4 linked regions of the Homo sapiens genome follow. The protein of the gene in region 1 interacts with the protein of each later gene in a pairwise test. Each region holds a gene or a part of one and is shown in the gene's direction. Other genes may lie near its edges. The genes, in order: EGLN3, ZC2HC1A, PLEKHA2 and MAPK6.

The links.
Region 2: the proteins of EGLN3 (region 1) and ZC2HC1A interact in binary tests that used the Homo sapiens proteins (3 or more experiments, as listed by UniProt).
Region 3: the proteins of EGLN3 (region 1) and PLEKHA2 interact in binary tests that used the Homo sapiens proteins (3 or more experiments, as listed by UniProt).
Region 4: the proteins of EGLN3 (region 1) and MAPK6 interact in binary tests that used the Homo sapiens proteins (3 or more experiments, as listed by UniProt).

Annotation. Positions count from the first base shown.
Region 1 is NC_000014.9:33,923,703-33,927,088, reverse strand, and holds the end of EGLN3 (prolyl hydroxylase EGLN3), read left to right. Parts: intron 1-55; coding exon 56-129; intron 130-1,166; coding exon 1,167-1,198; 3' UTR 1,199-2,862; downstream 2,863-3,386. UniProt on the Homo sapiens protein: Prolyl hydroxylase that mediates hydroxylation of proline residues in target proteins, such as PKM, TELO2, ATF4 and HIF1A. Target proteins are preferentially recognized via a LXXLAP motif.
Region 2 is NC_000008.11:78,669,080-78,676,117, forward strand, and holds part of ZC2HC1A (zinc finger C2HC domain-containing protein 1A), read left to right. Parts: intron 1-5,964; exon of another isoform or gene 5,965-6,707; coding exon 6,708-6,784; exon of another isoform or gene 6,785-7,010; coding exon of another isoform or gene 7,011-7,025; intron 7,026-7,038.
Region 3 is NC_000008.11:38,946,333-38,953,370, forward strand, and holds part of PLEKHA2 (pleckstrin homology domain-containing family A member 2), read left to right. Parts: intron 1-4,517; coding exon 4,518-4,658; intron 4,659-5,833; coding exon 5,834-5,980; intron 5,981-6,303; coding exon 6,304-6,372; intron 6,373-6,964; coding exon 6,965-7,035; intron 7,036-7,038. UniProt on the Homo sapiens protein: Binds specifically to phosphatidylinositol 3,4-diphosphate (PtdIns3,4P2), but not to other phosphoinositides. May recruit other proteins to the plasma membrane.
Region 4 is NC_000015.10:52,022,217-52,029,254, forward strand, and holds part of MAPK6 (mitogen-activated protein kinase 6), read left to right. Parts: intron 1-5,422; exon of another isoform or gene 5,423-5,657; intron 5,658-7,038. UniProt on the Homo sapiens protein: Atypical MAPK protein. Phosphorylates microtubule-associated protein 2 (MAP2) and MAPKAPK5.

The DNA of each region.
Region 1 (3,386 bases):
GTGTTTCTAGTAGTACCATTAAATCTCTTTCCTTATATCTGCTTATCTTTCACAGATATGCTATGACTGTCTGGTACTTTGATGCTGAAGAAAGGGCAGAAGCCAAAAAGAAATTCAGGAATTTAACTAGTATGTGTTTGATAATTTTCTGTGACTTTTGATCAAGTTAATCCTTGACTTTTATTCAATTTTATGTAGTTTTAAACATGTTCTGTTCAATCTGTTACGGCTTAGCTTTATATATAATGACATCTTGATGGGTTTTATCCTGAAACCTTGGCCTTAGGGCTCTTAGAAAAATCAGAAACAATGCAAGGGGCTTCCCCTGAGAATGCCCACTGAATGTATGATGGTTTATGATAGATGGGAAATAGTTAACTTTTTCCTATTAATGTTAACCAGTCAAATGTAACATTAAATTTTGCCCATGATTTTTGGCATATTGCAAAGGAAATATAATGGAACCCAGTTATGATGGCAAAATTTATTATATTGGGTGAGACTGTGACTCTCAGTATAACAGCAGGGCTCATGTAATATAAACTGAATATAACAGCACTACTCCTATCCCTTCCAACCAGTATTAGAAGGCAGCATTTCCCAAAATACGTTGCATTAAAACACAAATCCTGCCAATTTGGTAAATTCCTGGTCCCAAAAATGTGGGAAATGTTGCATGCTGTATGCCTGTCTTAAAAAGAGTCACATTGCTCACTAGCATATTAAATTAAGGCGCTAAGAGATCCTGCAGTAAGGAAACATATATAATATTGCCTAGCCCATAACCCATTTGGACTGTATACCTCTCAAATACCAAAGTGGTCTCCAAATTGCACCCAGGAAATCTCAGTTTGTTTTCTCTTCCAGATGGCCTACACTGCTTAACTCTGATATGTGAGTGAGGCTACACTTCATACAACTTATGCTCAGCATTAGCCCAAGAGGTGCCAATGCTGGATGTAAACCCAAAGTTCCTCCACAGTCTGTGAGGCATATGGGAAAGATCCCATTGCAAAGTCAAGAGAGAATCCTTTGGCAGAGCTCTATTAGGAGGCTTATATAAGATGGGAAGTGTTTACTGGAGGCTTTTTGGTGACATTTGTGACATAAAACTCATCAGAGCTGACTCCATACCCTCTTTATTCTCCTTTCTGTCCCCAACCCAGGGAAAACTGAATCTGCCCTCACTGAAGACTGACCGTGCTCTGAAATCTGCTGGCCTTGTTCATTTTAGTAACGGTTCCTGAATTCTCTTAAATTCTTTGAGATCCAAAGATGGCCTCTTCAGTGACAACAATCTCCCTGCTACTTCTTGCATCCTTCACATCCCTGTCTTGTGTGTGGTACTTCATGTTTTCTTGCCAAGACTGTGTTGATCTTCAGATACTCTCTTTGCCAGATGAAGTTACTTGCTAACTCCAGAAATTCCTGCAGACATCCTACTCGGCCAGCGGTTTACCTGATAGATTCGGTAATACTATCAAGAGAAGAGCCTAGGAGCACAGCGAGGGAATGAACCTTACTTGCACTTTATGTATACTTCCTGATTTGAAAGGAGGAGGTTTGAAAAGAAAAAAATGGAGGTGGTAGATGCCACAGAGAGGCATCACGGAAGCCTTAACAGCAGGAAACAGAGAAATTTGTGTCATCTGAACAATTTCCAGATGTTCTTAATCCAGGGCTGTTGGGGTTTCTGGAGAATTATCACAACCTAATGACATTAATACCTCTAGAAAGGGCTGCTGTCATAGTGAACAATTTATAAGTGTCCCATGGGGCAGACACTCCTTTTTTCCCAGTCCTGCAACCTGGATTTTCTGCCTCAGCCCCATTTTGCTGAAAATAATGACTTTCTGAATAAAGATGGCAACACAATTTTTTCTCCATTTTCAGTTCTTACCTGGGAACCTAATTCCCCAGAAGCTAAAAAACTAGACATTAGTTGTTTTGGTTGCTTTGTTGGAATGGAATTTAAATTTAAATGAAAGGAAAAATATATCCCTGGTAGTTTTGTGTTAACCACTGATAACTGTGGAAAGAGCTAGGTCTACTGATATACAATAAACATGTGTGCATCTTGAACAATTTGAGAGGGGAGGTGGAGTTGGAAATGTGGGTGTTCCTGTTTTTTTTTTTTTTTTTTTTTTAGTTTTCCTTTTTAATGAGCTCACCCTTTAACACAAAAAAAGCAAGGTGATGTATTTTAAAAAAGGAAGTGGAAATAAAAAAATCTCAAAGCTATTTGAGTTCTCGTCTGTCCCTAGCAGTCTTTCTTCAGCTCACTTGGCTCTCTAGATCCACTGTGGTTGGCAGTATGACCAGAATCATGGAATTTGCTAGAACTGTGGAAGCTTCTACTCCTGCAGTAAGCACAGATCGCACTGCCTCAATAACTTGGTATTGAGCACGTATTTTGCAAAAGCTACTTTTCCTAGTTTTCAGTATTACTTTCATGTTTTAAAAATCCCTTTAATTTCTTGCTTGAAAATCCCATGAACATTAAAGAGCCAGAAATATTTTCCTTTGTTATGTACGGATATATATATATATAGTCTTCCAAGATAGAAGTTTACTTTTTCCTCTTCTGGTTTTGGAAAATTTCCAGATAAGACATGTCACCATTAATTCTCAACGACTGCTCTATTTTGTTGTACGGTAATAGTTATCACCTTCTAAATTACTATGTAATTTATTCACTTATTATGTTTATTGTCTTGTATCCTTTCTCTGGAGTGTAAGCACAATGAAGACAGGAATTTTGTATATTTTTAACCAATGCAACATACTCTCAGCACCTAAAATAGTGCCGGGAACATAGTAAGGGCTCAGTAAATACTTGTTGAATAAACTCAGTCTCCTACATTAGCATTCTAATGGTTTGATTAATATATTCCATCTTTGGCAGGAAGGGCTTGCTAGAATTTTTACACACATCTTTTTAACATTGTTGACTTACACATTTACGCTAAGAGTTTTAGAACGCTTTGGTCATAGTGTTGCTTCGTATTTGTATACCCATGAATAGGTCATTCACTGACCACTATGAATCTGAAAATTGAACAAATTATATTTTGCCCTTCCATATCCTAGAAACAACATTAGTAAAATAACATTAGTCTCAGATAGGACAGAGTGAATTCCCCTTTCGAACAATCTTGAAAAATTTCAATAGGAAAGAAAGGACGAAGTTTATTAGGAATTTTGTATTCTGTAAAATTGTAGTTATATATTTTTCATGATTTCTAATGTCATAAGAATGATAGTGACAATATTCTGAAGGAGGATCATATAGTTCCAAAAGCATGTCTTGTATTTTTCATTTTAGTCAATATGCCAAAAGATCTGACCTCCAAGGCTTTGTTTATTCCTTCCAGACAAAGGTCCTA
Region 2 (7,038 bases), on another chromosome or scaffold:
CTGTTTTGTTTTATTTTTTCGTAGTATAAATGTATACTAGTTTACTGTATAATTCTTTATCTTTATTAATTTATCTAGCATTTACTGCTTTTTGGTAGTGAGTTGGATGCCAGATATTTTAATAGACAGTATATTGGAGAGGACTGTGTTTGAATCCTTGCTTTGTTTCTTTTTAGCTCTATGATTTGGGCAGTTTACTTAATCTGAACCCTTATTTTCCCTGCTATGAAAAAAATGGAGCTATTAAATATGTAACTACCTAAATTATATTAAGTATTAAATAATGTAATATATGTAAAACATTTAGCTAAGTACCTAGTGCATAGGAGGCCCTCTCAGTGTGTGTTTGTTAGATGGCGAAAATCACAAAAAGCATGTTAGCAGGTCCAGTATAGGTAAAACATAGCATGCTTGGGAGGAGCGAAGGAAACATTGAAGCCAAGAGAGAAAGGACTTTAAAGGTGAAAGAGATTTGTCAGCAGTGGCTCAGACTGTAGAAAGGCCCAGTAGGATGGGGATTCAAAAGAGAGCTTCAGATTTGACAATTAGTAAATAGTAATCCGTTACCTTCCTTTTTAATGTCATTATTGTGTCCTTATTAAACAAACTTTCCCTGATTATCCATACTTCTCCAAGACAGCATTATGACCATCTCTTCTCCCCTTACTTTGTTCTACCTTCATTGTGGTTATCACCATGTAACATTTTATATATTAGTTTTTATTCATTTTTTCCCTGTTAGATCAGTGAAAGCTCTATAAGATCAGAGTATTTGTTTTTTATCATCCTTATACTCCTACCTCCTAGAACAGTTTCTGCCTCATGCTAGGTGCTCAACAAATACTTATTGAATCAAGGAATGAATGTATTTCTTTCTTTCTTTCTTTCTTTCTTTTTTTTTTTTTGATACGGAGTTTCGCTTTTGTTGCCCAGGCTGGAGTGCAGTGGCATGATCTGGGCTCACCACAACCTCCGCCTTCTGGGTTCAAGCGATTCTCCTCCCTCAGCCTCCGGAGTAGCTGGGATTACAGGCATGTGCCACCAAGCCTAGTTAATTTTGTATTTTTAGTAGAGATGGGGTTTCTGCATGTTGGTCAGGCTGATCTCGAACTCCTGACCTCAGGTGGTCTGCCTGCCTCGACGTCCCAAAGTGCTGGGATTACAGGTGTGAGCCAACGCACTCGGCGGAATGGATGTATTTCAATATAGTGCTTGGCCTGATAATGTCTCCCTGCAGTTCAGACAGTGAGTGAATGAGAGGCAGAGAAGGACTAAGCAGAAAATGTAAGTTAGTGTTTCAAAAAATGTGCTCATCAGGACATTGGTGGAGAACATTGGTTTTGGGAGTACAAAGGATTTCTGATAAAATAAATTTGGGCAAATAACAACATACTAAGCTTCTTTTTTTAAGACTAAGGGAGTTCTGCTCTAAGAGAACCCATTTAACTTAGGTTAATGTACCATTTTCCAAACATTTGGCCATGTAGCAAGGGATTCGTGGATAATTCCTAGTATAAATGATGGGTCATGTTCAGACTGGGTAGGAAAGGACATGCAGCCAGGAATGAACTTATTAAGAAAAGCAAGTCACTCTGAGATCAAGATAGTAACTTAGAGAAAGGTAGGAGGTAGAATTCTATGGTTAAAGAGGAAACTTGAGTGTTTTAAAGTCCAGAGTTGGTTGTTTTGGCAGTAGTTTTGCTGAACTAGAGTGTAGGTGACTAAAATGCTGTGAAGGATGAAGGTTGTGTGTTGAGTCGGGTAGGCATTGACTAGGTTAAGACAAAAACTCTTCTAGGATGAGCTGAAAAGGGTAAATCTTCTGAGACACTGGATAATATTGATCTGAAAGTAATTCGATTTTGGAAAGGATATTGGGAAGAAAGTGATATAACATATTTAGTGCTTCAGAAGAAAGATTTGTTGAGTGTTAAAGGAGTCAAATGAACGGTGATAGAATATAAGACTTACCAGCAGTGAGGAGATGGACATGCCACAAGGGAGGCCAGAACTGTTCTTAATTTCCAAGATTTCTTTGAAAATGTTCTCTCATAGTTCTTAAATGTATGCATTTTAAAATGTCACAACTATTTGAAATAAAATCTTTATTTCTCATCACTTATAGTGTTAGATAAAGATACCATTTCAAGTCTTACCATCATGCAGGTTTTGAAGTTGCAAAACATAAGCAACTCATAACAGAATCAACAGTGTGTGCCAGATAGATTTTGTAAGGAGAGATTGGCTTCTTAAAAGTTCTAGAATATTAAAGTACTTTATTGACTTGGTTGTATCCATCACCTTGAGTGCTTATTTCAACAGTATTTGCTCTCTGATATAATATTCACCAATAATCACCCCTCTGAATATCATCTTTCTCTTGTATTTTTATAAGCTGCAAAATTTGCTAGTTTTTGCCACTTAGGAAAGGTTAGTGGAGATTGCCTGCATGCCTTGGAAAGTAATATTTTTTATTTCTGTAGGTTATGAAACATTTTTATATGTAATAATTGATCCTCTGAAATTTTAAAGTAAATTGAGCAGATATTAGCCTCATTTAACTGTTGTTAAACTGAGTCTGCCTATATGATTATCATATATTTCTTTCTAATTCATGTCTTAAAGGCTTCTCTAACAAGGAGTTCTTTGCTGTAGGTCCTTTCAGGTTCTCAGTTCTCTGTGTAGATAAGTGGAAGTTATTTCCTTAATGTGGTGTACACTACCTGAAGCATTCGTTCTACCATCTGCAGTTGGTTTAATCATTCTTATATATAAACTTTATTTAAAAAGTCAGTAAGAAAGATGTCTTCCATGTACTTTTCTTGCTAATGTAGTCTTAAGGTAGATTTTGTTAAATTACCGTACGTTACAGATAAAAAGGGACCGTATGTCATTTAACTTAACTTCCTTATTTTATGTAAGGAAATCTAAACCTTAGAGAGCTTAAGTATCTTGCCTGAGGACTCATAGTTCTCAGTGACAGAGCTGGGGACTTGAAGTTAGATAATGTAAGACAAATTCCAGTGCTTTTTCAACTATACTGTCATGTCTTTTAATGAATTTAATTAGAGCAAAATGTGGCTTTTGACTCTGAGGCCTAAGGTATTTATCATGATCTGGGTAGAAGATTCTATTAATATTTTTTTAAAAATTATTTTAGTAATAAAATTTATATCCAGGCACATGATGATTATTTTAATTGAGAGAAAGGTACAGCCACTTTATTATTTAATTAGTTGTGTGTGTGAGGTCAGAATATTTTAACCCCTTGGTCCAATTAATCTTAATATAAGTATCATATGTATAAAATAACAATTCAAATAATACATGCGGTTTGCATAACTAGGTGATCTTAACCTTATAGCAGTATGCTTTCTATTATCTGGTGATAAAGAGAAAACGATTTTTTTTACCCTACACTCTGCAGATCAACTCAGTATGTCACTTAACTGATCACCAGCAGTATTTCTTCATGCCTTGGAGATTAATAAGATAAATTTTGTTTTTAAGGTTTAGTAATTTACCGTAGAGATAACCTTTAAGATAAAAGAACATGACAAATTGATTTGGTTAAAATAATTACAAGAAAACTACATATTTCCAACTAATCAGCTTGGTTATCCTTAAATTATGACTTTTCTGTGTTTATTCTGGTCTTTTTGCCCACTGGTAACTCTTAAGCCCATTTTAATTGATAATTTTTCTTACTTCAAATTACAGTAAGAAATTTGTTTTACAGCAACTGACAACTTACCAATGAAACTAAAGAAAACATTATAATGTGAAGTTTCACAATTTAAACTACATAAATTATTTTTAATTTTTTTTTTAATTTTACTTTAAGTTCTGGGCTACATGTGCAGAACGTGCAGGCTTGTTATACAGGTATACATGTGCCATGGTGGTTTGCTGCACCCATCAACCTGTCATCTAGGTTTTAAGCCCCACATGCATTAGGTATTTGTCTTAATGCTCTCCCTCCTTTTGCCTCCCACCCCCTGACAGGCCCTGGAGTGTGATGTTCCCCTCCCTGTGTCCATGTGTTCTCATTGTTCAGCTCCCACTTATGAATAAGAACATGCGGTGTTTGATTTTCTGTTCCTGTGTTAGTTTGCTGAGAAAGATGGTTTCCAGCTTCATCCATGTCCCTGCAAAGGACATGAACTCATTCTTTTTTATGGCTGCATAGTATTCCATGGTAGACATGTGCCACATTTTGTTTATCCAGTCTATCATTGATGGGCATTTGGGTTGGTTCTAAGTCTTTGCTATTGTAAATAGTGCTGCAGTAAGCATACGTGTGCATGTGTCTTTATAGTAGAATGATTTATAATACTTTGGGTACATACCCGGTAATGGGATTGCTGGGTCAAATGGTATTTCTGGTTCTAGATCCTTGAAGAATCACCACACTGACTTCCACAATGGTTGAATTAATTTACACTCCTACCAACAGTGTAAAAGTGTTCCTATTTCTCCACATCCTCTCCAACATCTGTTGTTTCCTGACTTTTTAATGATCGCCATTCTAACTGGCGTGAGATGGTATTCTGTTTTAGAGAATGAAAGCGTTGTCCAAATTGGAGAATTGTTACCTTGCTACCGGGTAGAAGTTCCCTCCGTAGGTCTTGACATCAACACACATGCACATGCCATATTTTGTCAATTATAGTGCTATGCTCTATGACCAGCTAATATTAGAGGACATTATAAATTTATATATGTGTTTTATATATATCTTTATTTTGGGTGAAGTAATGACATTCTTCTCTAAACAATATTTCTTTGGGGGATAATTGCTTTTAAATTATCCCCAAATAGCATTATTTTAAAATGGTATTGTATCTGTTTATGCCTTATAGTGATAATAATTTTCGTTTTTTAAAAAAACATTTTAAACATGTTTGATAACTTGTGGAAATTAATGTCAAGAACTGGATATTATTATATGGTAATATTTGGTTGCTTTATGTTTTAATTTTTTGTATGAAAAATAGGAGTTGATTTGGTTCTTAGATCTATTTAATAAGTAAATAATATAGATTATGTTAGCTTTATGAGAGCAATAATTGTGTTATTCTGTCCTTGTGTTAATATTACTTAGTACATGCTTGGTACGTGGTTTTTCTATGTGCTGAATCCATTTTTGTCAATAGTTAATTTTTATAAGATTTTGCTTTGTCATCTAAGAAGTAGATAAGCAAATACACTTTTAAGCAAGTATAATATGTGGTGCTTTTTAATATTTTGTATTGATGAATTTTAAAATCATTGCTTAGTATTTAAAGGAATACGTTAAAACTATAAGCAAGCTTAATAGATTAGTTAGCGTGTGATGTTACTGAGACCATCATTTTGAAGACTGTCTTATCTAAATGAACCTAATGGTTTCCATTTAGTAACTCTGGATTGTTAGTGGACTTAAGTGATCCAGATAAATGAGATTGCCCTCCCTAAATAACTTAGCTCCTGGTGTTGGAGAAGGACAAGTCAGGCAAATCTTAGCTTTGCTTTTGTAGTGTTGACTGCTTAACTGCTACTACACAACATTGCCTCCATCTGAGATGAAAAGTAATCACTATCCACCAGTCAAGTAGGGCAGTGGAGTAAGAAATGAGAAAACAAAACAGTTCTTCTGTTACTGTATTTGAATGCATTCTTACCAATATCTATTTTGGTTTGCCTGTTTAGTTCTCTGTGAACTCACTAAATGTCTTGGATCAGGTTATATGGAGTTATATAATTGTACTTTTTAAAATTAGTTTGTTACTTCTAAAGAAAAATGTTTTTCTATTTGTCTTTCATATGATAAAAGAATTTTAGCATCTCTAAAATATTCAGCAGAAACTATGGGGAACATGTTACATGTTTAAGTATCATTTTTAGGAAATTATAGCTATGAAAACAAGTTTATGTTTGATATTTGGAAATAAAATAAAATGACAAAATGAATTATGCAGAATCACAAAGAATGCAGTTTCTTTTTTTGTAGTTTCTTTTTTTTTCTTTTTAGTAATAACATTTGTTGTATTCAGTTACATGATAGTTATATTAATTTTATTAATAATTGAGTGAAAGTTGTAGCTACCTCTTTATTTAATTTTGTTTGTAAGGTCAGAATATCTCCATTTACTAGTCCACTGACTCTTAATATAAGTATTATATGTATAAAATAATAATTCACATAATACATGTAATTTGCATAACTAGGTGATCTTAATCTTATAGCATTGTACTTTCTATTGTTTGGTGGTAAACAGAGTAAGATTCGTTTTATTCTAGATTCTTCAAATCATCTCAGGAAGTCACTGAACTCATCACTAATGGTATTTCTTCATGCCTTGGAAATTAATAAGATAAATTTTGTTCTTAAAATGTAGTAATTTACCATAGAGATAGCCTATAAGTTAAGAGAATATGACAAATTGATTTGCTTAAAATAATTACAAGAAAACTAGATATTTCCAGCAGTATCAGTTTGGATATCTTTAAATCATGACTCCTCCATATTTATCCTGACCTTTTTCACCACTGATAACTAAGTATTATGCTCCTTTTCATAGATAATTTTGCTTATTTCAAAATGCAGTAAAACATTTTTCACAAAAACTGATAATTTACCTATAAAACTAAGAGAAAACATTAAAATGTGAAGTTTCACAATTTCAAGTTATATAAATTATTTATTAAATTCCTTCCTGTTTTAGAGAATGGAGGTGTTGTCCAAGTTGGAGAATTGTTACCTTGCAAGATTTGTGGAAGAACATTCTTTCCAGTAGCATTAGTGAGTAGACTGATTTTGTACCTTTATGGTTTTACAGATCTGTAATTGTTCAATAATTCTGGTCAATTCTCATGGGAAGAATTTACGTGGAATAGTTTTTGAAGAGTTAATGGGTACTATTCTTTGTTCAAGGGTCTTGATTTCAGCTATGCCATTCTTCCAGAATGCTTTCTTTCCTTCAGAGTTTGGTCTTCAGAACTCTTCTGTTAAAGTTTAAAGGTATTCCTCATTTTACGAGACTCTTACCAAAAACA
Region 3 (7,038 bases), on another chromosome or scaffold:
CTGGTCTGTACCCAGTTCTCTCCCACCTCGTCTTTTTCCTTGGCTGACCAAACACAAGTTGAACTGAGAGTCTGAGTTTGAATCAAGTTCAAGGGGAAGTTCATGGAGCGTCCCCTTTGTGCTTCCTGGGAGGGCTCCCGATCAGTCATGTTTCGGGTGATTCTGGGATGCTGATTCAGAATGTGGTAGGATTGGAAAATGGATTGGTGACTGTGAAAAGTCAAGTAAGGGGAAAAGCATATGGGGAGGGAAGTCAGAACTTTTTCCCAGCTTGGGGGATACTCTTCTTACTTTCAGAGGCTGCCTGCAGGGTCAGTCCAAGCCATCCGCCTCCCTGTCCTAGAAAAGCCTTCTGTTTAAAAGCATCACAGAGCTCGTTCATGGACTGTCCTACGAGTGTGCTCTTTTTCCTTGAGTTGGCTAATGAAGAATTCCTTTCTTTTTCCTTAGAGATATAGAAAAAGAAAGGAAGAAGGGTAGGAAGGATGGAGAGGGGAAACTATGTTTTGGAAAAAACTAGACTTTTAATCAATAAGACAGGCAGACTCCTGGCTTATATAGATCATGGCTTCTTTGCTGAAAAGTTTGTTTCTGTATCATACAGTCAGAAATGCTTATGTTTGAGGGGCTTCCAGTAGTGACTATTACATGCTGCAGCAAATTATCCTCCCAGATTTCTCAGGGTTCCTGTGAACAACTGTATAGAAGAAATTTGTACACGTATATAGTATTCATATTGCTAGACCCAACCTGAGTGTAATTGAGTCTCCTATAAGCACTTTTGCTGATTAGCTTCTTATTCTGATAAACCTTGGTAAACCCGTGAAAAGAGAGAGTGATGAAAAGAGAGAGGATGGATGGCTGGGTGCAGTGGCTCACGCTTGTAATTCCAGCACTTTGGGAGGCCGAGGTGGGTGGATCACCTGTGGCCAACATAGTGAAACCCCGTCTCTACTAAAAATACAAAATTAGCTGGGCGTGGTGGCACACGCCTGTAGTCCCAGCTACTCAGGAGGCTGAGGCAGGAGAATCACTTGAACCTGGGAGGCAGAGGTTGCAGTGAGCCGAGATCGTGCCATTGCATTCCAGCCTGGGCGACAAGAGTGAAACTCCACCTCAAAAAAAATAAAAAATAAAAAAATTAGCCAGGCCTGGTGGCTTACACCTGTATTCCCAGCTACTTAGGAGGCTGAGGCAGGAGGATCACTTGAGCCCAGAAGTTTGAGGCTGCAGGGAGTTATGATCGCACCACTGTACTTCAGCCTAGGCAACAGAGTGAAAGCCCATCTCTTAAAGAAGTCTCAGGTAGTGTAAACAGCTTTGGAAAGGCTCTGCATGTTGATCTGAAGCACTGCATGACACCGGAGCATAAGCACTGACAAACAGTGTTCTTCGGGATTTTGAGAGGAAACACAGCAGCCAAGCTTCTGTGCCTCCTTTTCTGGCCACTGGGAACTCTAAAAAGTTACTTTCTGGCCAGGCGCGGTGGCTCACGCCTGTAATCCCAGCACTTTGGGAGGCTGAGGCGGGTGGATCACAAGGTCAGGAGTTCGAGACCAGCCTGGCTAACATGGTGAAACCCCGTCTCTACTAAAAATATAAAAACTAGCTGGGCATGTTGGCATGCACCGTAATCCCAGCTACTTGGGAGGCTGAGGCAGGAGAATCACTTGAACCCAGGAGCTGGAGATTGCAGTGAGCCGAGATCGCGCCACTGCACTCCAGCCTGGGCGACAGAGCAAGACTCCATCTCAAAAAAAAAAAAAAAAAAATTGTTATTTCCCTCCTTCTTTGCTGGGTTTCAGGAATTCATCTGGGTCATTTAGGGGAAATTTCTGCAGTTCCATGGTGATTTTAATCACTAAATATCAACTAAAAATCAACATCCCTAAAAATGTGGTTACATAATAACAGAACTCACAGAAAGTGAGAAAGAGTAGCTTAGGTAGGTCGTGACATGCAGCAACAAGGAGTCAGGCAGTCCTAGAGCCAAATCACTTAATTTTAATGAGCTTGAGTTGACCTCATCTATAAAGTGGAGAAAATCATGCCTGGTTGATAAGATTAGTGATAATGCAGCAAAGAGCTTATCAGTGCATTGCCTGGCACTGAATGGTGGCCCAGAGAAACTGTAACTGCTGGTATCTCTCAGCCAGAAAGAAAATAGAAGGCGGAATTTCTGGCCTGATTTGGAGGGGTAGGGAGGGGGCAGAGGACGTCCTTGTCTATGTAAACTGAGTGTGCAGTCCAGGAAGAGAAGGTCTCGTTGTCTTTGTGGGGGCCCAGCATAATCAGGGTGCTCTTATTGTTTTGAACAGACACCAAATGACAGGGCTGTCATATAGCTCTGAGCTCGGATCCTTAGGTCTTTCTTACTCTGAAAGCTGTAGAAGTGGGAGAGGACCTTAGCTTTTCTCTCGAAGTCCCGGTGACGTCCCGGCAGATAGATGTAGGGTGTTGCGTTCTCCTGAAGGTGGGGCATTGTGATGCTGGGGCACTGGTGGGAAGTCAGAGTTTAGTAGACATTCAGCTGTTTTTTTGTTTTGTTTTTGTTTTGAAACGGAGTCTCGCTCTATAGCCCAGGCTGGAGTGCAATGGCGTGATCTCGGCTCACTGCAACCTCTGCCTTCTGGGTTCAAGCGATTCTCCTGCCTCAGCCTCCTGAGTAGCTGGGGTTACAGGTGCCCGCCACTACGCCCAGCTAATTTTTGTATTTTTAGTAGAGACGGAATTTCACTATATTGGTCAGGCTAGTCTCGAACTCCCGACCTCAGGTGATCCGCCCGCCTCGGCCTCCCAAAGTGCTGGGATTATAGGCATGAGCCACTGTGCCTGGCCGACATTCAGCTGTTAATCCTGGCTTTGGGTAAATGACTCAACTGTTCTGGACCTCTTTTTTTTTTTTTCTTTCTAACAAAATGAAAGATTTCCTCAGCATTTGCAGACTCTAGTATAAATGAGTGAAGTGGGCAAGGAGGAGGAAACAGGGCAACAGGAATGAGGATAAGTGACATTTGACCCCTGGCCTCTCCCGTTCTGCTGGGGAGAATGGTAGGGACTGTGCAAACACAATGTATTTTCTATCTAAAAGGGAACTGCTGCATAGCTGAAAATCTGGATTTTTCTGTGAAATATCCCAAAACTTAGATGCAGATTTTAAAAAATACTGCATGTGACTAACAAAACATTGTTTGGGCAAAGTCAGTGGGTGGGCCACCAATTTGCAACCTCTGGCCTGTGATTTCCAACTAACAATAAAAATTTTATGATGATTTGATCAGCTGTGGTACCATATCTCTGTCAAGGAAGAGCAAAGATAGCTCATTCTTCCAAAAGGGCTCTGTGTATAATTATTAGTAACAACGTGGGAAGCCTTAATTATAATATTTTGTAATATGTTTTTCTTTTTAGTTGTGTTTCTAAAGCATTTAATATACTCTATCATTTGATAACCACAACGATGGTTATGATAAATATTATTCCACTTTTCATTTTATGCATGAGACGGTTTAGGCCTAGAAAGGTTTGATGGTTGCCAAAGGTCTCTCAGGTGGTTCGTGAGAGGTGAAGGGTTATACCACACATCTTCTGGCTCCAGACTTCATGGACCCCTTGTTCTGTCTCTACAAAGGCATGCATGCATTTTTACCTGTTCAATCTGCCCAGAATGCCTTCTCCCAGCTTCATGTTCCTGGTTCCTTTTATTTAGTTTTTTATTTTGTATTTTTTTCGAGACAGGGTCTCTGTCACCTAGCCTGGAGTACAGTGGTGTGATTATAGCTCACTTCAGCCTCCAATTCCTGGGCTCAAGAGATTCTCCTACCTTGGCCTGTTGAGCAGCTGTGTGCTACCACACCTGGCTAATTTTTTTTTTCATTTTTAGTAGAGATGGGATCTCACTATGTTCCCCAGGCTGGTCTTGAACTCCTGGGCTCAAGTGACCCTCCTGCCTTGGCCTCCCAAAGTGCTGGGGTTACAGGTGTGAGGCCCCGGACCTGGCCCCCATCTCCTGCTTACCCTCCAGGTTGCCGTTTGAGTGTCTCCCTGCCTTCTCCTCTAGAGACCTCCCTGCCCACTCTGTTTCCAGCAGGTCCCCTGCTGTGCGCTGCCTCAGCTCTCTTGATCTTCTTTGTGCCACTCACCACCATTTGTAATTACTCTGTTTGTTTTACGTTTTTTTTTGTCATTCCCCCTACTAGCATGTAAGTGCCGTGAAGGTGGGGACCCACGTGTGTTTCGCTTGACACTTTATCTTTGGTTTCTAGCCAGGGAAGGGCTGGCTCATAAGTAGGCGCTCAAGAAATTCCTGGAGTCAGTTTGTATCTGTGTAGGGGGAGGGCGTTGCTGGTTGAGATGCTCATATTCAGATTTGGACTGTGGAAGGCTTGGGGAGGACACGCAAGTCTGACTGTAATTTGGCACATGAGCTTTTCTCACGGCAGCCCCATTCTGTTTTGGGCTCCCCATGTTTCCTAAATGTTCTGTTCCCCATTGATTGTTGCTGCCGCTCACCCCAGGTTCCCAAAGGTGGGGGCCTACCCATGACCACTGAAGTTCTCAAGAGCTTAGCAGCTCCTCCAGCCCTGGAGAAGAAGCCACAGGTGGCCTACAAGACGGAGATCATTGGAGGGGTGGTGGTCCACACACCCATCAGCCAGGTGAGGGGCCTGACTGGGGCTGCGGGGGGAGTGGGGGTGTGGAAGTGTCCATGGTGTGCCCATGATGTGCTCGGAGCACTGTACTGGGGAAAAGGAGGGTGGGAGTGGGGGGCAGCTGGTGCCAGTGGAGCCATCAGGAAAGTACAGGTCATGTTACATCCCCATTCATGGGTGTTAGTGACGGCAGTGCGGAAGTGGAGGCTGCTGCATCTTGAAGCCATGTGGCCTGTGCAGTTCTGTGCCGAACACGGGAGACACAGAAGATGAGGGTTTGTGAAACCATAGGAAATGGGACAGAGCATGGCAAACAAGGCTGGAAACCAGCCTGGTGTCCCTGCTGGTTCACATTCCCTATCCTTCCCTTTCTCCTGGGTCGGCCCAACCTCCCTGATGCTGGTTCTGTGAAAGTACCCAGTAGAGTGCATGACAGAGAAAGGAAAGGTTTATTTTCCTGTTTTAATTATTTATATTTATTTAAGTTTTTTTTTTTTTTTTTTTTTTTTGAGATGGGGTGTCCCTCTGTCACCCAGCCTGAAGTGCATATACACATAATCACGGCTTATTGCAGCGTCTGCCTCCTAGGCTCATGCAATCCTCCTGCCTCAGCCTTCCTAGGCTCAAGTGATCCTCCCACCTCATCTGGGACCACAGGCATGTGCCACCACGCCTGGCTAAATTTTTTTGTATTTTTTGTTGGAGATGGGGTTTTGCCATGTTGTTATTTAATTTTTTTAGAGACAAGGTCTCGCTGTGTTGCCCAGACTGAAGTGCAGTGGTGCAATCATGGCTCACTTCAGTGTCAGACTCCTGGGCTGAAGCCATCCTCCAACCTCTGCTTCCTGAGTAGCTGGGACTACACGCCTGGGTAATTCTTTTTTTTAATTTTTAAATTTTAAAATCAAAATTAAACAAAAATTTTAAAACAATTTTTAATTTTTTTGTAGAGACTGGGTCTCACTGTGTTGTCCAGTCTGGTCTAGAACTCCTGGGCTCAAGCGATCCTCCTGCCTTGGCCTCCCAAAGTGTTGGGATTACAGGCGTGAGCCACTGTGCCCACCATTTATTTCTTCTTTGACTTAGGGCAAAGAGGCCAGAGATTCAGGCAGAGGGAGGTAGGTGGGGCTGTGGCTGCATAGAGGGAGGGAGGCGCTGATACTGACACTGTTTCCTTGCAGAACGGTGGGGATGGGCAGGAAGGGAGTGAGCCCGGGTCCCACACCATCCTTCGAAGGTCTCAGAGTTACATCCCCACGTCAGGCTGCCGTGCTTCCACTGGGCCTCCCCTCATTAAGAGTGGTTACTGCGTGAAGCAAGGGAATGTGGTGAGTGTCAGCACAGGGGCTGAATTGGGGTTCTGGTGACTCCTCAGAGCCAGTGGCTGTAGACATAGCAGAGGTGAGAGGGGATTGACAGGAGGTGCCTCAGTCCTCCATGGAGCCTCCACCTTTGAGGGTGAGATTTTGGGACTGACCTTTGGCTCCCACCTGTCAGAGGTGTTGCCCCTGATATGAAGAAGCCCTTGCCCCTGCTGAATGTGGGAGCCGGACTTCCATGGGGCTGGGTCCTTGGGAGCTTAGCATGAGTACACCCTCCACAATGCTGGGCACCTCTCGCTAATGGTCTGCCTTTTATTTTTTTATTACAGCGGAAGAGCTGGAAACGTCGCTTCTTTGCACTTGATGACTTTACCATCTGCTACTTCAAGTGTGAGCAGGTTTGTAGTAGCTTTGCTGCCCTTCTGAGAGGTCATGGAAACTAAGAGGTGCATAGGTGCACACCCACAGGAGAGCGTGCATGAGTGGAGATGTGGGCACACAAAGACTTCAAAGGCGCCTCTGTCTTATCTCCATTCTGTGCACACATCTTTACAGTGACACTAAAGTGTCCTCTCTGCAGTGAGCTGCTGTGTGGTCAGAGTCATAGCTACACAACATCTTCTTCTTATATTTTTTTGTCTTTTTTCTTGTTTTTGGAGACAGGGTCTTTCTCTGTCACCTGTCACCCAGGCTGGAGCACAGTGGTGGATTTTTTGTAGAGACAGGATTTCACTATGTTGCCCAGGCTGGTCTTGAACTCCTGGCCTCAAGCAATCCTCCAGCCTTGGCCTTCCAAAGTCCTGGTATTACAGGCATGAGCCACTCTGCCCAGCCAGATTTTTTTTTCTCTTGCTGATTATTTTGAGACCAGATTATTTGTCAACCTGATTTTAGCCAACCATCTCTGAGAAAGGGGTATTGGTCAGCTGGTCTGGGTCGTGATATGACACAGACAGCCTCACTTACCTGTCTTTCTGTTCTTTCCACCAGGACCGAGAACCACTGCGCACCATATTTCTTAAGGATGTTCTGAAGACCCATGAATGTCTGGTCAAGTCTGGGTA
Region 4 (7,038 bases), on another chromosome or scaffold:
CTGTTTATTTTTCCAAAGGGATTTGAGGAGTTTGTGGACAGTAAAGTGTTTGTTGTTTTTGTGAGACAGGGTCTTGCTCTGTCACCCTGGCTGGAGTGTAGTGGTGCGATCACTGTTCACTGCAACCTCTACTTCCCGGGCTCAGGTGATCTTCCTGCCTCAGCCTCCGGAGGAGCTGGGACTACAGCTGTGTGCGACCATGCCTGGCTAGTTTTTCGTATTTTTTGTAGAGATGAATGTTCACAGTGTTGCCCAGGCTGTTCTTGAACTCCTGGGCTCAAGCAATCTGCCTGCCTCAGCCTTCCAGAGTGTTGGGATTACAGGTGTGAGCCCCTGCTCCCAGCCCATAAAATGTATTGTTAATGTGAATTAAATTTTTGGAACTATTTTGGAAGAGTATTGCATGATTTATACCTAGAGGTTTTTTTTTTACAAAGTTTAATTCAAACTTAAAAAAAATTTCCTACTAGAGGAAACATAAAAATACAAATATAAAAGTATTGAAAATTTTCAGAGCATCACATTACTTAGAGGTTTAACGTATTTTCGGCATTGTTTTCAAATATAGGTAATTAGCTGTAGTGCATAATTCAGAGTTTAAAAACAAACTGAGGCCGGGGGCAGTGGCTAACGCTTGTAATCCCAGCACTTTGGGAGGCTGAGGAGGCAGATCACGAGGTCAGGAAATCGAGACCATCCTGGCCAACATGGTGAAACCCCGTCTCTAATAAAATACAAAAATTAGCTGGGTGTGGTGGCACGTGCCTGTAATCCCAGCTACTCAGGAGGCTGAGGCAGGAGAATCGCTTGAACCCGGGAGGCAGAGGTTGCAGTGAGCCGAGATTGTGCCAGTGCACTCCAGCCTGGGTGACAGAGCGAGACTCCGTCTCAAAAAAAAAAAAAAAAAAAAAACCGAAAAACAAACAAAATAACTGGATATCTTAGCCTGCTTCCTGTCTCCAAGGTACTGCTTTATGAAATGCTGAGCCTTCTTACCACTGCTATCCAGTTCTTTGTTACATTTGAACCTTGTGTTACTCTAGGTCCCCTGTTAAAATGGAAAGAAGATGCCTCAGAAGTAAATTCTGTGTGGCATTGTTGGCTGCCTTCATTAGTTCCTTCAGCCTGTTTTGTGGGCTGTTGAACATTACACTACAACCTGCCAGTGGTGTGGGAATTTTGCTCATTTTTATTGCTGAGAGCCTTGACTGAGACTTCACAAAAACAACTCCAATGTTACTGTAGTTAATGGCATTTTCCAGGGGTTGCTTTCATGTGAAGCTGATGCTTTTAAGGTGACAGTGATTTGGGCCTAGTCCAGCATTGATTGGTTTTTTCACCTCCATGAACTGCGTATTTGGAAAATAATGTGTGTCTCTCTAAGAGTTTTTTTGTTTGTTTGTTTTTTGTTTTTGAGACGCTGTCTCCCTCTGTTGCCAGGCTGGAGCGCAGTCGCGCCATCTCGGCTCACTGCAACCTCCACCTCCTAGGTTCAAGCGATTCTTCAGCTTCAGCCTCCCGAGTAGCTGGGACTACAGGTGCGCACCACCATGACCAGCTAATTTTTGTATTTTTTTTAGTACAGACAGGGTTTCATTATGTTGGCCAGGATGGTCTCATCTCCTGACCTTGTGATCCGCCTGCCTGGGCCTCCCAAAGTGCTGGGATTACGGGCATGAGCCACCGCGCCCAGCCAATAGAGTTCTAAAAGTTTTGTCTTTTATACATGTCAGTCTTCTAAGTCCATTTCTAAAAAATTGTTCAGAGATTGAATGTTTGTATAGCAAATACAATTTCCCATTGATTTTCGTTAAATTTGGTATTTTTTTCACAGAAAAAAATGGTATCATAAAACTTGTTTTTTAGAATCCTAGCATTTACCTCAGAAAAGTCTGCCTCTGCAGAAAGTGCAAATCTGTATGCATTTAATTCTGTACAATCATAAAACTTTAAAATATTAGTGTTTTGGAGGGGTCATGGGCATTATCTTGCTTCATTCATGTACATCGTTTGACAGCTAAGGAAACCAAGGCCTGAAGAGATCTAAGATCTTGGTACTGAAAGTGTGATTTCTGGACCAACAGTATTAGCATCACCTGGGAACTTGATAGACGTTAGAATCTTGACTTCATCTCAGTCCTACGGTCCTACTGAATTAGAATCTTAGAATCTACTTTTTCTTTTTCTTTTTTTTTTTTTTTGGAGACGGAGTCTCACTCTGTCACCCAGGCTAGAGTGCAGTGGCACGATCTTGGCTCACTGCAAGCTCCGCCTCCTGGGTTCACGCCATTCTCTTGCCTCAGCCTCCTGAGTAGCTGGGACTACAGCTGCTGCCACCGCGCCTGGCTAATTTTTTGTGTTTTTAGTAGAGACGGGGTTTCACCGTGTTAGCCAGGATGGTCTCGATTTCCTGACCTTGTGATCCGCCCGCCTCGGATCCGCCCGCCCGCCCAGCACTCCCAAAGTGCTGGGATTACAGGTATGAGCCACCGCGCCCGGCCTTCTTTTTTTGTAAATAAGAGGCACAATCTTGCCCTGTTGCCCAGTTTGGATTGGAGTGTAGTGGTGTGATCATAACGCACTGCCACCTGGAACTCCTGGACTCAAGTAATCCTCTCACCTCAGTAGCTGGGACTACAGGCATGTGCCATCATACACTGCCTTTTTTTTTTTTTTTTTTTTTTTTAAGAATTGGAGTCTCACTGTGTTGCCCATGCTCGTCTCAAACTCCTGGCCTCCTAACGTGCTGGGAAGAACCTGCATTTTAACAAGATTTTCAAGTCATTCAGTGCGCATTCAGTTTGAGAAGCACTGCTAAACGATGCATACACCTGGGCAACATAGTGAGACCCTGTCTCTACAAAATAAAATAAAATTAGCCTGTTGTAGTGGTGCACACCTTTAGTCCCAGCTACTTATGAGGCTGAGATGAGAGGATTGCTTGAGCCCAGGAGGTTGAGGCTGCAGTGAGCCGTGATCGCACCGCAGCGTTCCAGCCTGGGCAACAGCAAGAGACCCTGTCTCAAAAAATACGTAAATAAATAAAAATTAAAATGATGCATACATGGTTGCTCAGCTCGTTAGTCTTCTGAGTTGCTCTTTCCACTGGCCCTTCTGAAAAAAGTCAAATGGAAAATTTGGAAGCTAATCACTGCCCAGTTGAACTTTCTATGATGATAGAAGTGTTCTGTGCTATCCAGTGAGGTAGCCATTGGCCATGTGTGACTGTTGAATACTTGACGAGCAAGTAGTGCACTTGAGGAATTGAATTTTTTATTTAATTTTAATTCCTTTAAATAGTTGGGGCTGGGCGCCGTGGCTCACGCCTGTAATGCCAGCACTTTGGGAGGCTGAGGCGGGCGGATCACGAGGTCAGGAGATCGAGACCATCCTAGCTAACATGGTGAAACCCTGTCTCTACTAAAAATACAAAAAATTAGCCGGGTGGCGGGCGCCTGTAGTCCCAGCTGCTTGGGAGGCTGAGGCAGGAGAATGGCATGAACCCAGGAGGCGGAGCTTGCAGTGAGCGCCACTGCACTCCAGTCTGGGTGACAGAGCAAGACTACGTCTCAAAAAAAAATAAAAATAGTTGGATGTAGCTGGTGGTTACATGGACAGCACAGATCTAGATGATCTTTGCCCACTCTAAAATCTAAGCTGTAATTTAATAACTGGTTAGACTCAGTTTAATAATTGTCCTTTCTTAATGTACAAATTGGAGAGAGAGTATGTTGACTTAGTTTTTCTAATATGCCCAGATATTATTTCAGTATGTATTATAAAACAGTGCTGATTTTCTAATTGATACATCTGTGTTCAATAAAGTAGATAATCTAAGTTGTAAGCAAGTCAGTTTCTTTCCATCTTAACAGGTATTTTCACTTGAATTTTTAAAAAGTAGCTATTAAGTTTTCCTTAGTTATCCTGTGGAAAGCATTGGCAGGATAGTTTTTGCCTCTGGCCTAGTCCCTCTAGGCTTGTTGGCACTTGTTGATTACTTCCAGATTGATCTGCTGTTTATGTTAATTCCAGGTACCGAAACAGTGGTTCTTAACCTCCTACCTTTTTTTGTTTTGTTGTTGTCGTTGTTTTGAGACGGAGTTTTGCTCTTATTGTTCAGGTTGGAGTGCAATGGTGTGATCTTCGCTCACTGCAGCCTCCGCCTCCTGGGTTCAAGTGATTCTCCTGCTGCAGCCTCCCAAGTAGCTGGGATTACAGGCATGCACCACCACGCCCAGCTAATTTTATGTTTTTAGTAGAGATGGGGTTTCAACCATGTTGGCCAGGCTGGTCTTGAACTCCTGACCTCAAGTGATCCACCCGTCTCGGCCTCCCAAAGTGCAGGGATTACAGGCGTGAGCCACCGTGCCTGGCCTTAACCTCCCACCTTATGCAGTGGGAAGATTCTAACCCTATAGTCACAGGCCTATGTCCAAATCTTGGCATTTACTGTGTGTGTAAAGAGCATCAGTGCTCTTGTTTGTAAAATGACATTTACAAGACTGTAGTTTGAGATGAGAGAAATAATTTGTCATTTAGAAAATGCCTGTCATGGCTGGGCGCGATGGCTCATGCCTGTAATCTCAGCACTTTGGGAGGCCGAGGCAGGCGGATCACAAAGTCAGGAGTTCTAGACTAGCCTGGCCAACATGATGAAAACCCGTCTTTACTAAAATACAAAAAATTAGCTGAGTATGGTGGTGCATACCTGTACTCCCAGCTACTCTGAAGGCCCAGGCAGGAGAATCGCTTGAACCCAGGAGGCGGAGGTTGCAGTGAGCCGAGATCACACCATTGCACTCCAGCCTGGGCGACAGAGCAATACTCTGTCTTGAAAAAAGAAAATGCCTGTCACAGCCGGGCGCGGTGGCTAATGCCTGTAATCCCAGGACTTTGGGAGGCCGAGGCGGGCGGATCACAAGGTCAGGAGTTCAAGACCAGCCTGGCCAGCGTGGTGAAACCCCATCTCTACTAAAAATACGAAAAAACTGGCCATGGTAGCGTATGCCTGTAATCCCAGCTACTCGGGAGGCTGAGACAGAAAAATTGCTTGAACCCAGCAGGCGGAGCTTGCAGTGAGCCGAGATCGTGCCACTGTACTCCAGGCTGGGTGACAGAGCGAGACTCCCTCTCAAAAAAAAAAAAAAAAAAAGAAAATGCCTGTCACATAATAGGTCCTTAGTAGATGTAAGTTACCTACCCTCCCCCTCCTGCTTGGATTTTATAGCCCTCTGTAATTGAGTTTTATGCTTAAGATTCCAATCAGGCTTAATACATATTCTGAGTCTTCATCTCTACCCGTTACTGTAATTTCATGCCTTGCTTTGTTCATGTTGTATCCCATGTAGATTGTGCCATTTGTGCTCTGGATGTCTTCTCTTGACTTTTTTTTTAATCTTAATTTTTTTTTTTTTTTTTATAGGCGGGGTCTCCCTGTGTTGCCCAGGCTGGGCTCAAGCAATCATCCTGACTCGGCCTCAAAAAGTGCTGGGATTACAGGCATGAGCCACTCTGCTCAGCCTGTTGATTTCTCTTTATTTATTTATTTATTTATTTATTTATTTACTGTTTTTTGAGATGGAGTCTCACTCTGTTGGCCAGGTTGGAGTGCAGTGGCACGATCTTGGCTCACTGCAGCCTCTGCGTCCCAGATTCAGGTGATTCTTCTGCCTCAGCCTCTTGAGTAGTTGGGACTGCAGGTGCCCACCACCACGCCCGGCTAATTTTTGTATTTTTTTTTTTTTTTTTTTTTTTTGAGACGGAGTCTCGCTCTGTTGCCCAGGCGGAGTGCAGTGGTGCGATCTCAGCTCACTGCAAGCTCTGCCTCCCAGGTTCACGCCATTCTTCTGCCTCAGCTTTCCGAGTAGCTGGGACTACAGGCGCCTGCCACCACGCCCGGCTAATTTTTTGTATTTTTAGTAGAGACAGGGTTTCACCGTGTTAGCCAGGATGGTCTCGATCTCCTGACCTTGTGATCCGCCCGCCTCGGCCTCCCAAAGTGCTGGGATTACAGGTGTGAACCACCGCGCCCGGCAATTTTTGTATTTTTAGTAGAGACGGATTCGTCTCTGTGTTGACCAGGCTGGTCTTGAACTACTGACCTCAAGTGATTCATCTGCCTTGGCCTCCCAAAGTGCTGGGATTACAGGAGTGAGCCATCGCACCCTGCCAGCCTGTTGACTTCTTAAGGACTTACCTCGTTCTTGCCTACATCATGAATTTTTCCCTTTCTGGATTATCTTTATTAATATGCAGATGTGCTTTAGGGCTGTACTGTCCAGTATGGTAGCTACTAATCAATAGTGCTTTCTGCAATGAAATGTGTGGCTGTTAAAAGAAAAATTTAAAAAATTTAGGTCCTCAGTGATGCTAGTCATATTTCAGTTGTTCAGTAGCCATATATGGTGCTAATGGCTGCTCTATTGGACAGTGCAGATATAGAACATCCCTATCATTGCAGACAACACTATTGGACAGCACTAAGTGTGGCTTCCTTGTTTATAAGCCCTCTCGCCATTCCACATTATTCTCTAGCTACAGCCTCATTTCTCTGATTCTCTTCCAAGCCAGTTTTCAAAAGTTGTCTTTTTGTGCTCTCTCCACTTCCCTTTGCTTCTCAGCCTACTACAGATTGGCCTCCATTCTTACCACTAAAACTACTCTAGTCAAGGTTGCCAGTGGTTTCTATTTACTAAATTAGTCTTACAGGCTCTTGTAGGAGCATTCAATATAGTTGACCACTGTTTTCGGCCTATTCATCTACTTCTCATTTTATGAGACATATGTTCTTGTTTTCCTTCTACTTTACACCTTGTTATACTGTATGCTTTTTTTTGTTTCTGAGACGGAGTCTCGCTGTCGTCCAGGTTGGAGTGCAGTGGCGCAATATTGGCTCACTGCAACCTCCATCTACTGGGTTCAAGTGATTATCCTGCCTCAGCCTCCCCAGTAGCTGGGATTACAGGCGCACACCACCACGCCTGGCTAATTTTTGTATTTTTAGTAGAGATGGGGTTTCACCATGTTGGTCAGGCTGGT